Linked DNA regions of Homo sapiens. The protein of the gene in region 2 interacts with the protein of the main gene of each other region in a biochemical or structural test. Each region holds a gene or a part of one and is shown on either strand. Other genes may lie near its edges.

Evidence for each region.
Region 1: of the proteins of NSF (region 2) and PTPRC, one has a biochemical effect on the other in vitro, tested with the Homo sapiens proteins (one large-scale study listed by IntAct).

Annotation. Positions count from the first base shown.
Region 1 is NC_000001.11:198,750,419-198,754,247, reverse strand, and holds part of PTPRC (receptor-type tyrosine-protein phosphatase C isoform 1 precursor), read right to left. Parts: intron 3,757-3,829; coding exon 3,622-3,756; intron 2,000-3,621; coding exon 1,877-1,999; intron 1,655-1,876; coding exon 1,476-1,654; intron 1-1,475. UniProt on the Homo sapiens protein: Protein tyrosine-protein phosphatase required for T-cell activation through the antigen receptor. Acts as a positive regulator of T-cell coactivation upon binding to DPP4.
Region 2 is NC_000017.11:46,596,943-46,600,771, reverse strand, and holds part of NSF (vesicle-fusing ATPase), read right to left. Parts: intron 1-3,829.

The DNA.
Region 1 (3,829 bases), on a different chromosome or scaffold from region 2:
GAAAATAATCCTACTTCTCACCAAAAAGGGTGATATTAGAATAAAAACAGGAAGAGAGAGAATATATTTTTTGCTTCATGTTTATCATAATTATCTTATTCCAACCTCTTTCAAGAACCAAATTATTTACGCTAAATGCATTTTTAGGCAAATTTTTCAATTTAAGAGTGTGATAATCCTGGAATTGAAAACTTATTTGTCTTCGACTTTACAAATATATTTTCTTTTATTTAGTATTTTATGGATTTTAATGCATTTTTATTTACATCTGAAGTTGTTGAAACCAATATCAGAATGCCAGTATGATAGATAAGGAAACCAAGATTTGGAGAAGAGAAAGCTGATGTAATCAGAAATATTAGACCTAATATTTTGTAAATTACTAGAACACATGCTCTTCTTCACTCTTCTGCCTCTCTACCACGTTTCACAAATGTTTTCACTTCTGCATCAGTAGAAAAGTAATACCTAGTAGAATTATTCACTAAAAAGAGGGCAATCAAATAGTTTACCAAACAATGAGAAGTATAAAGCATTATCATAAAGATTCAATTTAAACAATATGTTATCAGCAGGACACTTTAGTTATTGTACATAAATCATATTCTAAGAAACATATATAGTTTTACAGTGTAAACTTCCCTTCCTCAGCTTTCTTTCCACATAAATGCTGAAAATTCATATATTTCTTAAGGCTTGATTCTAGTATATGCAATTCCAATAATAACAATTAGACTTTTTCAAAAATTCCAAAAGTTTTTCACTAGATAAACATTTCTCATTTTACTTTACTATTTTTCGTTTCTCATTTACTTCAATATTCTTTTTCATGTAAACTTTTATATTATATATCTTTCTTTCAATTATATTGCTTATTTAAGGTGAATATGTAAGCACCTATCACAGATGAAGAAACTAATAAAATCTAGTAGTATTATTGATATTACCACAATCTTTGCCTTTGGTTCAGTTTAGAAAATTAAATAATGAGTTTCAAATCAAAATTGCTAAGCTTTGTGATTTCAGTTAATATTTAACTTAAAATATGTTTAATAAACTTTGTGTTCATTAAACATATTAGGTGTCTTTGTGACACCTAATAGAGTAGATCAATGTATATGGGTATATGTGTAAGGTGATACCCATCTACCTATCTGTTCACACACCCTTCCATTCATTAATTCATTCACACAAATGACATTCCTGGCTCAATGTTAGCTACCAAGGAATCAAAGATGACATGACACCAAGTATTAAAAAACACAACTTAAAATTATTGCACTATAATATAATCACTTCTATTATATTTCTACAATAGTTGTGTTGTGGAAACAACCAAGAGAGTGACCGACTCCATAAGAAGTTTTTACTGTGGTTATGTGTTTCATATATGAGGATAACTAGATAAGACAACATGTGAACCGAGAAGTCAAGCATTATGATTTTGAGAGCACATTCTACCAAATCCCACGCACCTGCAGTGAATGAGTAGAGGTGTACTCTTGTGATGCTTGTTCCCTTCAGAGGAATTCTTCTGGGGAAGTTTTTGTTTGACGACCTGAATCATAGAGATTAATTCCTTGGGTTCTGCAGGAAGCTGCTCCACACTCCAGTTTGTATATTGGTACTGGTACACAGTTCGAGAGTCTTTCCTCTAAAATCAGAATTGAAGAGAGCATTAACTGGAGTGAAGTTCAGCTTATTTTCTAATTTGATAGTCATATTTTCTTCACAGTTACTTCTATTTAAATAATTTTAAAATGTTATTCTGAAACATTATTTATATGATGGCCTTGCCTGCATAGAGTAATTTATATTCATTTTGCTACCAGATCCATTATATCAAAGAAATATACTCCCCAAATTGTTTCCATACCTTGGAATGTCTCAGTTCAAAGACACGAAGGGTATAAGTTGAAGATTTGTCTGTGTCTTTCAGGTCAACTTCAATATCTCCATATGTTTGCTTTCCTTCTCCCCAGTACTGAGCACAGATTTCCTAGATAAAAGAAGACAATTCAACAATTTGTTTCCTATTTGAAATATGCAAAGGATCAGTCTCCCTCTTTCTCCCTTTCTTTCTCTGTCTGTGCCTCTTTTCTATTAAATGAAAATTATTGTGTTCTAAAATTGAAACCTACTTATAAAAATCCAGAATCTATTTAAGTGCTGGCGACCCATTTAATAAATATGTGGTGTTTCCTTGTGTAAGAAAAGGGAAGCTGAGCACAATCGAGGTGACTGGGACACCCCCGGAACAGCTGTTTTCCTTAGTGTAGGTCTTTGAGGTTTGCTCCTCTTTTCCACATGCTTATCATGACCTCTTCAATATTTATGGCTGGCATGAGTCAATGTTATTCATGACCCTTTCAATAACTCAGGTCCCACTGTCCCTTCAGTGGTTCTTGAGGAAGGAGGCTGCATCTTTTGGAGCTTTGTCTCTGTCATCTTGTTGACCAACACCATAAGCAGCTTTATATATTTTGTCTACATAGCTAAGGAAAGGGCCAGATTGAAGAGTAGATGAACCACAAAAGTGTTTCTTCTTACTACAAACTGTTGTCTACCAACTACAACCCCACAATTTCTGACAAAGACAGGGAGTCCTGCCGGTACTTCCATCCTGTTTCCCAGCTTTCACAATTTATATGAAGGAAAGGATTGTGGGAATTCCATGCTAGAAATCTGGACTTATATTCCTTTAAAACAAAAAACATAAAAAGCAACTTTCCATGTACAGGGGAAGGGGACCAGGTGAGGGTGAGAAAGAGTGAGATTTAGGGGAGAGAGAGGGGCATAAAAAAGCATAAATCTTTTGCATACTTATAAGGTTATTCACTGAATAGGCTTGAACATATGTCAGATAATGTGGTTGGTGCTAAAGCTGAGTGAGATCTACCACCAGGGAAATTTTAATAATAACTGAAGACATTAAGAAAAGGATAAAATATCTGTCACAAGCATTAAGTAAAAAAATCAAATTATAGCTTAGATTCACCTTCAACTATAGACTTTTATGGCAATAAATATTATATGGGAATAAAGAAAGGATGATATAGATACATTTTTCAGGAGTTTGGTCTTGTTAAAAGAATAGGGTCAAAACTGGAAGACAGCACACATTTAGTTACATGGAATATCAATAAGTTTAGACTCAGTGATGACAATGCAAATGGCGTGTTTAGGCTTGGGCATGAAACCTGCTTGTCCAGAGTGGAGAGGATGGAAAACATAAAAATGGGAGGAAGATGAAAGACACATGAGGGGGTGATTGTCCAGGGTGCTGGATATCACAAAAAGATCTTGGCTTTTATCTTGAGAAAATGAGGAAAACAGCGTGAAAATGTAGCTGTTATTTGCTGTGACGCTGACATTGCTGCATCCTGGCTAATCTGTGAGCAGCATGCAAGACTGGAGGGGACAAACAGGAGAGACTGTCAGAATCCAGACACAGCTGATGGAGGCCAACACCAGGGTGAAAGGGGTAAGACTGAGCAGACAGAATTATGTGATGGAGGGATAAAAAAAGACGTGGGTATGGCGATGAAGCAAGCAATCCAAGACTAGAGAATGACGTTTTATGACAGAAAGGCTTAAAAGAAAATCCTCAAAAGTACAAACCTGGTCTCCATGTTTCAGTTCTGTCAGCATAACAATAACTTTGACTTTTCTTTGGAAGATCATCTGCCAAAAGTCACCAATGGTCTCCTTCAGTGGTCCCTGAGCAGCAATCATCACTTCAGGTTTCCAGTAGCTCTTTTTAGACAAAAAAAGGGTGGGACTTCGTTACTACAGAAGAGAGCTCAGTAGATTCTTAAAGTAACCATTT
Region 2 (3,829 bases):
CCAAATGCTGTAAGCAACTGTAACATAATGGGTAATTGTGTAACTAAACATATGTAAATATAGAAAGGTAGAGTAAATATATGGCATTATAATCTTTTGGGATCACCTTCCTATCTGCAGTCCCTCACTAACCAAAATATCGCTAATGTGGCAATGGCACTCGACTAAAATAATGTACATTCCGGGAAAAATAAAATTGGAACTGCCTAAATTGTCCTCTAATAAGAAAGTAGATGATTGTGGTATATTCACAAAACAGACTACAGAGTAGCTAAGCAGAATTAATTGGCTCACTATATATCCACAGGACTAAATTTCAAAATTATTTTAAGTGAAAAATGCAGGTTGCAGAAAGAAAGATATAGCATAAAACCATTATATACATTTTAAAGACACACAAAGCAATATATTGTTTTTGAGCATAAACATGCATAGATGTAGACAGAAAGAATCTATACCAACTTCAGGACAGTGATTACTTCTGGGAAAGGTCAGTGGTCTCAAGAAGGGATACTGCCAGGTGTGGTGGCTGCCACCTACAACCACAGCTACTCAGGAGGCTGAGGTGGGAGGATCACTTGAGGCCAGGTGTTGAGACTAACCTGAGCAACACAGAGAGATCCTATCTCTAAAAACTTTTTTTTAATTAGCCAGATGTGGTGGCACACCTCTGCTAGTCCAAGCTACTCAGGAAGCTGAAGCAGGAAGATTGCTCGAGCTCAGGAGTGTGAAGCTGCAGTGAGCTATGACTGCGCCACTGCACTCCAGCCCAGGCCACCAAGTGAGACTCAGCCTCTAAAAAAAATTTTTAAATAAAACTAAAAAAAAAAAAAAAAAGGAGCAATACAAAGAAGAGTCAATTGGATCTGTAATGTTCTATTTTTTATTTATTATTATTATTTTTGAGACTGAGTTTCACTCTTGTGGCCCAGGCTGGAGTTGTGATCTCGCTCACCGCAACCTCTGCCTCCCAGGTTCAAGCGATTCTCCTGCCTCAGCCTCTCGAGTAGCTGGGATTACAGGCATGTGCCACCATGCCCGGCTAATTTTGTATTTTTAGTAGAGACGGGGTTTCTCCATGTCAGCCAGGCTGGTCTCGAACTCCCGACCTCAGGTGATCCACCAGCCTCAGCCTCCCAAAGTGCTGGGATTACAAGTGTGAGCCACCATGCCCAGCTGTAATGTTCTATTTTTAAAAAGATAAATATCTGAAGCAGATATCATATGTTAACATTTCTTAAACCTCAGTGGTAATCACATGGATATATGTTATTCACTGTGCTTGTCATGCTTGAAATCTCTTAAAGTGTGCATGAATTATACTCATTCAAAAATACTTAGGGCTTCCAGAAATGGTTACATCTACAAAAGGAATATTTAGTTTTCACTATAAAAAAAAATAAGTTGGAAATTAGTAGTTTAAATCACTAGGAAACTGAAGTCAGTATAAGGTAGCTCTCAGAGCAATATTAAGGATATCAGTACTAAAATACGAAAGAGTATCTCACTGAGAGATTTTCACTTAAAATACCACAGCCAGAGTATAGATGTTTTAAAAAGCATTACAGCAAGTGCTTAGTGTATTGCCCAATGAAGGTATTTGTAAGGGTTCGCTCTTCTGCCACTGCCAAAATTTTCAATGGTAAGATAATATACTTTACCTTATACTTTTGCACCTTAACTTAACTACTTGAAAAAAAGAGTCATCCTATACATAAATTCCTCTGGGTTTCAGAAAGAAGAAGCTATCTAATGATGCTTTAAAGAATTGTTTTGTTTCCTAAAATTCATTGCATTTGAAGATACTTTTAAAAATATCCACTAAAGCGATACACAAAACTAATAACTACTGCATGTAAGACTGCAGAAAGTTGATATACTTTGGACAAACTTTCATTCAGGAAATGGACTACCAAACACTTTATAGTATTTGTTTTGATTTGTAGTACTGCACATGAGCTATCCACAATTTACAGCTTGAGTTCCAAAGTTTCATCTGAAAGTTTGTTTGGTAATGATGTCATTCACCCACAAAATGTTATAAATGACTAGGTTTCTAAACAAAGGCTACAAAAGCTTCTGATATTGATACTGATACTGAATATTCTGGCCTGCCCTAGTCAAAACACTAGATTCGACAAATTTTACCTCTAACATCTTTCCATACCCCTTTCAACTCCTAAGCAAGTTCTCTCTCGTTGGTTCCTATTTCACATTATCTTACTCCTATCTCTGCCAAACAGATGACCTCGACTAGGTTTAAGGACTTATGAAGAAAGAGATCCACTGGCTTTATTTGCACTAAAGTATGTGTATTTTCAGAAAGGGACTGCTGAATCTCCAGTAAGTGAGATTTCTGGCAATTTTAAAAGATAAGCATACAAAACAGTTCAGGCACTGTGGAAAACTTTTCTTTTTTCTTTTCCAGTAGTGGGAAGGTAGTGGTATCTTCTGATGACCTAGAAACTGTACACTGAATAACATCACACATTTTATTCTTCAGCCAATTTCCCAGATAAACTATATACGGTGCTTCATTGGAAAAAACTTCAATTACATAGTGAATATAAATCCCACTTATAAGATGATGTCAGAATATCAAAAGTAGTAAGAATGCAAAATAAACTGTCCCCCACAAAAAGGAAATATAAAACCCATTAAGAGTATCGCAACAGCCGGGCTCAGTGCCTCACGCCTGTAATCCCAGCACTTTGGTAGGCCAAGGCAGGCAAATCACTTGAGGTCAGGAGTTCGAGACCAGCCTGGCCAACATAGCAAAACCCTGTCTCTACTAAAAATAGAAAAATTAGCTGGGTGTGGTAGCACAGGCCTGTAATCCCAGCTACTAGGGATGCTGAGGCAGGAGAATTGCTTGAACCCAGTGAGTGGAGGTTGCAGTGAGCCAAGATCGCGCCACTGCACTACAGCCTGGGCAACAGAACAAGACTCTGTCTCAAAAAAAAAAAAAAAAAAAAAAAAAAAAGAGTATTGCAACAACAACAAAAACATTTGATAAAATTCAACATCCCTTCATGATTAAAAAAACTCTCAACAAATTAGGCATAGAAGGAATATATCTCAAAATAATAAAGTCTATACACAACAAACCCAGAGCTAACATCATACTGAATGAGGAGAGGTGAGATCTTTCTTCTAAAAGCTGGAATGAGGCAGGGATGCCCATTTTCACCACTCCTATTCACCACAGTACTGGAAATCCTAGCCAGAACAATCAGACAAGAGAAAGAAATGAAAGGCATCCAAACTGGACAAGAGAAAGTCAAATTGTCTCTTTGCTGATTATATATCTGTAGGTTTAGAAAACCTTTAAATCAGTAGCATTTCTATACATCAATAAGGATCTAGCCAAGAAAGAAATTAAGAAGGCAATCCCATTTACAATAGCTACCGAAAACAAACAAAAACCTAGGAATACATTTAACTAAGGAGGTGAAAGATCTCTACAAAGAAAACTACAAAACACCAATGAAAGAAAATAAATCAAAAAACATCCTATGCTTGTGGAAAGAATTAATATCACTAAAATGACCATATTGCCAAAGCAATCTACAGATTCAATGAAATCCCTATCAAAATACCAATGTGATTCATATGGGACCAAAAAAGGAAAAAGAAAAAAGCCCAAACAACCAAACCAAACCTGGGCAAAAAGAACAAAGCTGCAGACATCACATTATCTGACTTCAAAATATATTATAAAGCTATAGTAACCAAAACAGCATGGTATTGGTATAAAAATAGACATGTAGACCAATGGAACAGAATAGAGAATCCAGAAATAAAACCACATAATTATAGACAAATGATC